2 separate regions of the Homo sapiens genome follow, and region 2 is linked to region 1. Evidence: fine-mapped expression QTL. Tissue or cell type: prefrontal cortex. Region 1 holds a variant in brackets; the other region holds the start of a gene. All regions are shown on one strand. Distances are between the middles of the regions. Region 1 has its middle 3.7 kb from the start of LINC02714. Region 2 holds the start of LINC02714 (long intergenic non-protein coding RNA 2714).

Evidence for each region.
Region 2: it holds the start of LINC02714, and the variant in region 1 is fine-mapped to the expression of LINC02714 in prefrontal cortex (GTEx, PIP above 0.99). The same link has a PIP of 0.9 or more in anterior cingulate cortex and cerebral cortex.

What each region holds. Positions count from the first base shown.
Region 1 is chr11:134,730,766-134,733,677 of GRCh38, forward strand. No RefSeq gene overlaps it. Among named protein-coding and RNA genes, the nearest start is that of LINC02714, 3.7 kb to the right of the region's middle. The variant G/A (reference allele first, on the strand shown) is at 1,304.
Region 2 is chr11:134,734,530-134,737,441 of GRCh38, forward strand. LINC02714 (long intergenic non-protein coding RNA 2714) reads left to right here and starts at 1,416. Exons shown (of 2, transcript NR_147836.1): 1 at 1,416-2,013.

The DNA of each region.
Region 1 (2,912 bases):
CCAAAGGTGCAGGGCGGCTTCTGGAATATATGGCCCTGAGGGTAGCAGACACATGGGAGGGAAGGTATGAAATCCAAATATGGATTCTTATGAGGAATTTCAGGTATTCTGGCAGGCTGACAGCTGAAATATTTAATTGAAAAAATATTTCCCAGCTTCCTCAATTCACAGCACAGAGTTCTGCCCTCTCAGCCTAAACAAGAGGCAGGCCCTCCTGGTGGCTGCCCCTCTCCTGAATGCCTCACAGGAGCCTGTCTCAGTCTGGGGCTGTGCTGAGCTACCTCTTAGCAGTTTCTTTAGTCATTTTAAGGTAGGGTTTCCTGGGTCAGCCAGAGACGTGCATATCTAAAAGTCTCTTATGTCTGCATGGCTAAAGGCTCATGATTTGTAAGGCTAATGAGGTTTATAGAACATTTAACAGAGTTTTTTGAAAATTTGGAAACAATGCAGCCGTTATCTTTGAGAGCATCCTTGCCCTTGAGTTTCCCAGCTGAGATCTCCTCCCTGGGGTCTGGCTTCTCTCATCTCTTTGAATTGCACACAGGCTTCCAGTGGACAGCACCTGCTGCTCTGCCAGCCCCAGCCAAACCTCTCCTTGCTCAGTTTTATCCTGTTCCTAGGAGGAAACTGGTCTTTCCTTGGCCTTAATAAAAGCCCAAATCCATGCACTTCACAAGACCAGTCCCCAGCTGGCCCTTTTCCATGGTTTAGAATCTTTGGCCAAAAGTTGACTGTGTTTGTCATCTCCTGCTGGACTGTCGGCTCTGGGGCTAGAAAAGCCTGGAGAGATGGGTAAGAGCCAGGACAAAGAAACAGAAGACTTTTCTTGCAAAGAATAAAAGGTATGTATTCATTTATTTAATAACCATTGATGATGTGCCTGCATGGTGCTGCACATACCTTGGGGAGGAGGGGCAGAGGCTTTGCGCCTAGACGACTCAGCATGTAGCTTAACAAAGAAATAACCTGGAGAACAATAGCCCACAGTGTGGGGCTCCGGCATGCTGAGCACTGGAGCTAAAGGAGCCTGGCAGGCTTCAGAAGCCGAGCTCTGAGTGCCTCTGCCTCAGACCCGTTCCCTGCTGACGTGAGTCACAGAAGCCAGAATCCTCTTCCCCATGGCAGCCATGGAAGCAAGGACCTCCTCTCCCACAAAGCGAGCCCTGAAACCTAGTGAGAAAGAAAATAAAGTTTCAATCTGAGGAACATGAGAAATTATCAGGCCTTGGGAGGTGTTAAAATGAGAGAGGAGTCATGCCGCAGGCACCTTGAGGTAAGTAATCATTTCAAAGCCACCTGGTGT[G/A]TGGACTCAGGACTGAGTGTTGCCACCAGTAGCTATAAATTAATCTAACAAGAATGGCCATCCTACACTGGACACCATAACTCACATCCTGTCATTCAACAATATATAACCAATAACTAATCAATGTCATTTCTGCAAGCCAATTAGAATTCCTGACCAACAACTTGTGTAATCACCCCCTTTCCTGATTCATCCTTTTTTCTTTAAAAATTTGAGCCTCTCCTTTGTTCCCTGAGCACTTCACAGTGTGTCCCGGACTGTGAAGTGCTCAACCTTGGCCCAAATAAACTCTCTGCATTAAATTTGCCACAGTTTCCTTCTTTACGTAGACAATAGACAAGTGTAAACCAAAAGGTATCTGAGACAGGTCCGCATCCACTTAGAGGTTTGTTTTGTCCAACCACCTCGGGTACACATGCCATGGGCCATGACACAGCCTCAGAAGAACGTGTGCCCAAGGTGGTCTGGTGATAGCTTGGTTTTCTACATTTTGGGGAGACAGAAGTTCCAGGCCAAGATATAAATCAATACTTGTATGATGTACATTGGCAAGCCCAGAGAGGCAGGACAGCTCGAAGAAGGGGGCTTCCAGGTCAAGGGGGGTTCAAAGATGTGCTGATTGGTAGCTGTTTGAAAGAGTTAAGTCCTGCTTGGAGAGTGAAACTCAGCATAAAGAAATGCTTAAGTTTACATAAGGGGGTTGTGGAAGACAAGGTTCTTGTCTTATAGTTGAAGCCTCCAGGTAGCAGGCTTCAGAGAGAATAGATGTGGAAGGTCTCTTATCACACCTCAAAAGGTGTCAGACTCTCTGGAAAGACCTAGTAAGGGAAGGAGACTCTCTATAGAATGTAGATTTACCCCACAAGAGACAGCTTTGCAGAACCGCTTCAACATCTTCGACATATGTCAAATAAATGTATTTTGGGATAAAATACTTTGACTTCTTCCAGGGCCTGCTATGTGTCATATGATGCTATACCAGAGTCAGGCTAGAATTTGGAATCTCATGGCTACAAAGAGTCTGCTTGTCTGTCTTCAGATCTCTGTTTTTGTGTTAGTGCCGATCAGTTGTGTCTAAACTCCAAAGGGAAGAGGGGATAGCGAGGCGTGTCTGATCCCCTCTTCTGGTTACATCCTGAACTAGCTTTTCAGGTTTCTTGGAGGTCCGCTAAGCCAAGAGGAGGGTCTATACAGTCGGTGGGGTCTCAGAATTTTATTTTTGGTTACAAAGTTCACTCTCTCCCTTCTCCCTTGAGAGCCCTCATTCCAGAGGGGTCCTGCCCATACCCAGGAGGCCGAAATGCTATGCAGAAAAGCCAAGAAGAAGCCACACAGACAGGCCTTGGAGGCCTCCGTGTAGCACCACAGACCATCCCCCTTTGTCCAAGCACATTTCTCCACAGTGTCCATTCTTCATGGAACCTAAGGATACAAACAGATGGTTCCCCTGCAGCTTCAGATCTTCATTTCTCAAGGCACCTGTATTATATGAAACTTTAAGTAAATCTGTTATGCTTTTCTCTCGTCAGCCTGTCTTCTGTTGTAGGAGTGTCAGCTGTGAGCCTTAGGATGAGTGAGTAAAGGCATCACACCCTTCTGCCACTACATC
Region 2 (2,912 bases), 3.8 kb after region 1:
TTTTGCTTCTATATTTTATAACAACTCCTTGGTAGCTGACGCCCGCTCCCTTTCCAATGTTCTGTGCCTTTCCTCCTTCCTCTGCTCCCTCAGATGGAACGGAGCTGGCTGCCTCTGTTCCAAGAAGCCTGCGGCTGAGTGCGGGCTTGACATGAGATATTTATCATCTCAGGATGTCTTCGCTCAGATCGCTGGCTCTCCACCCCCAGACTTCTTTATCTTATTTTGCTAAACAAGATGAGTTTCTGTCATTGCTGGAAGTAATTGCCTTGTTTTTTAATATATATCAAGGCCCAGGTTAACAACTGGACAATGCAATGCATTTGTTATTCCCTCTCTCTCCTGTTTATTCTAGTGTGAAATTGTTTTCCAGGTAGTGATTAATTCTGCCAAAGCTTCCTGCCCTTGCTGGGTAATTTGCTGTATTTGGGAAGAAGATGCTAACTGCGCGGCTCTGCCATCAGAGGTGTCGTTACTGTTTTGTCAAACACTAGCTCCTCCATTGTCTTCTGCCAATCAGCCAAGCCTGTGGTCCTTTATTCATTTCCTGTTTCTGAGTTTTCTGTGGGGAGGACTGAAGCTGAGTCTTCGGGGGAGACTGTGTCAGGAGGCTGGGGTGGGCTGGAGAGGGCCCCCCAGCGGTGGCTCCAAAGCATCTCCGCAGCGATGGAGAACTGGGGTTCGTGGGCAGAGTGGTGAGCGACGGAGAACTGGGGTTCGTGGGCAGAGTGGTGAGCGACGGAGAACTGGGGTTCGTGGGCAGAGTGGTGAGCGACGCAGAGCTGGGGTTCATGGGCAGAGTGGTGAGCGACGGAGAACTGGGGTTCGTGGGCAGAGTGGTGAGCGACGGAGAGCTGGGGTTCATGGGCAGAGTGGTGAGCGACGGAGAACTGGGGTTCGTGGGCAGAGTGGTGAGCGACGGAGAGCTGGGGTTCGTGGGCAGAGTGGTGAGCGACGCAGAGCTGGGGTTCGTGGGCAGAGTGGTGAGCGACGGAGAACTGGGGTTCGTGAGCAGAGTGGTGAGCGACGGAGAGCTGGGGTTCATGGGCAGAGTGGTGAGCGACGGAGAACTGGGGTTCGTGGGCAGAGTGGTGAGCGACGGAGAACTGGGGTTCGTGGGCAGAGTGGTGAGCGACGGAGAACTGGGGTTCGTGGGCAGAGTGGTGAGTGACGGAGAACTGGGGTTCGTGAGCAGAGTGGTGAGCGACGCAGAGCTGGGGTTCATGGGCAGAGTGGTGAGCGACGGAGAACTGGGGTTCGTGGGCAGAGTGGTGAGCGACGCAGAGCTGGGGTTCGTGGGCAGAGTGGTGAGCGACGGAGAACTGGGGTTCGTGGGCAGAGTGGTGAGCGACGCAGAGCTGGGGTTCATGGGCAGAGTGGTGAGCGACGGAGAACTGGGGTTCGTGGGCAGAGTGGTGAGCGACGGAGAACTGGGGTTCGTGGGCAGAGTGGTTGGCTGCCCCACTGTCAGCCTGTTCTGAAAGTAGGAATGACCCTCAGCTGAGCTGAGATGTTGCTGGTGGAGACTCTAAGACTGTGGATTCTGACTCCCTGGGCTCAGGAAGGACGGTGCTGGGAACAAGGTGCAGACAAGGCACGACGAAGCTGGAGTGCCTCATACCACCCCCATGAAAGCGACGAAGGACTCCCAGAACCATTCCTGGGGGCCCGTGGGAACGAGGACTTTGGGGGCACAAGGACGAGCTGAAGAAGTCTTCCTGATTGTGGTTGTCAGAGGGAGGACATGGCATCGTGGTGGGCCAGAGTATCGGCCTCAACACCACCCACTTTTCAGGCTGCAGTCTCCACCGTGGCCGCTGTGTGCATTGGAGGGCACTTGGCAGCATCCCCAGCCTCCCCACTAGAAAACCAGATGCCAGGAGCATATGCGCCCCTCCTCAAGGTGCAACCACCAGAAACGACGCCAGACATTGCCAAATGTCCCTTGAGGGTGGGGACAAATGCCCCTCATCCCCCTTGAGGACTGCAGCTGGAACTCAATGAAGAGCAGCGGTAAGTGTCTCTTGAAGGGTCTGTCCACGGCCATCCGGGTGGCTTCATGGTACACGGGAGCCCATGTGGGATCCTGAAGTCAGAGTCCAGGACTGGGCCTTGGCTCAGTTATCAGCTGCAAGGTCTTGGAGAAAATCATTAACGGAGCTGCACAGTTTTCTGGGGAGTGGAAAGGCTGTGGAAACGGCAGTGAGCCATGGAATCACAGGATAAACAAGAAAAAGGGCACTTCCCCCTCTCCCTCCCTCCCCTGTGTGGACTCCAGCAGAAGGCTCCTGGGAATGTGTCCTCTGTCCTCAGTGCTCAGTTACATGAGCGGCACCTCCACTCTCCCCAGATGGTGTCCTGTTCTGTGCTGAGCTCTGCACTGAGAGTTCTGCCCTGAGGTCATCCCTTCACATCCCAGGCTGGTGCTGGCATGGGCCTGTCCCTGGGCTCTGCCTGGCTCCTGTACCTGCCCCTCCACGAGAGGCCACTCCATCTCCTCCCCAGGCCCCTCCACCTGGCACAGACACCCTCTGCCCCTGTGAGACTTTGCCCCTCTCTGCCTGCGTCCCTGTCACCACTCCTCCATCAGCACAACCACAGCACCTGTGGGATCTCCTGGGAGGGACAGGAGGCACAGGCAGTCATCACCTGTGGGATCTCCTGGGAGGGACAGGAGGCACAGGCGGTCATCACCTGTGGGATCTCCTGGGAGGGACAGGAGGCACAGGCGGTCATCACCTGTGGGATCTCCTGGGAGGGACAGGAGGCACAGGCGGTCATCACCTGTGGGATCTCCTGGGAGGGACAGGAGGCACAGGCGGTCATCACCTGTGGGATCTCCTGGGAGGGACAGGAGGCACAGGCGGTCATCACCTGTGGGATCTCCTGGGAGGGACAGGAGGCACAGGCGG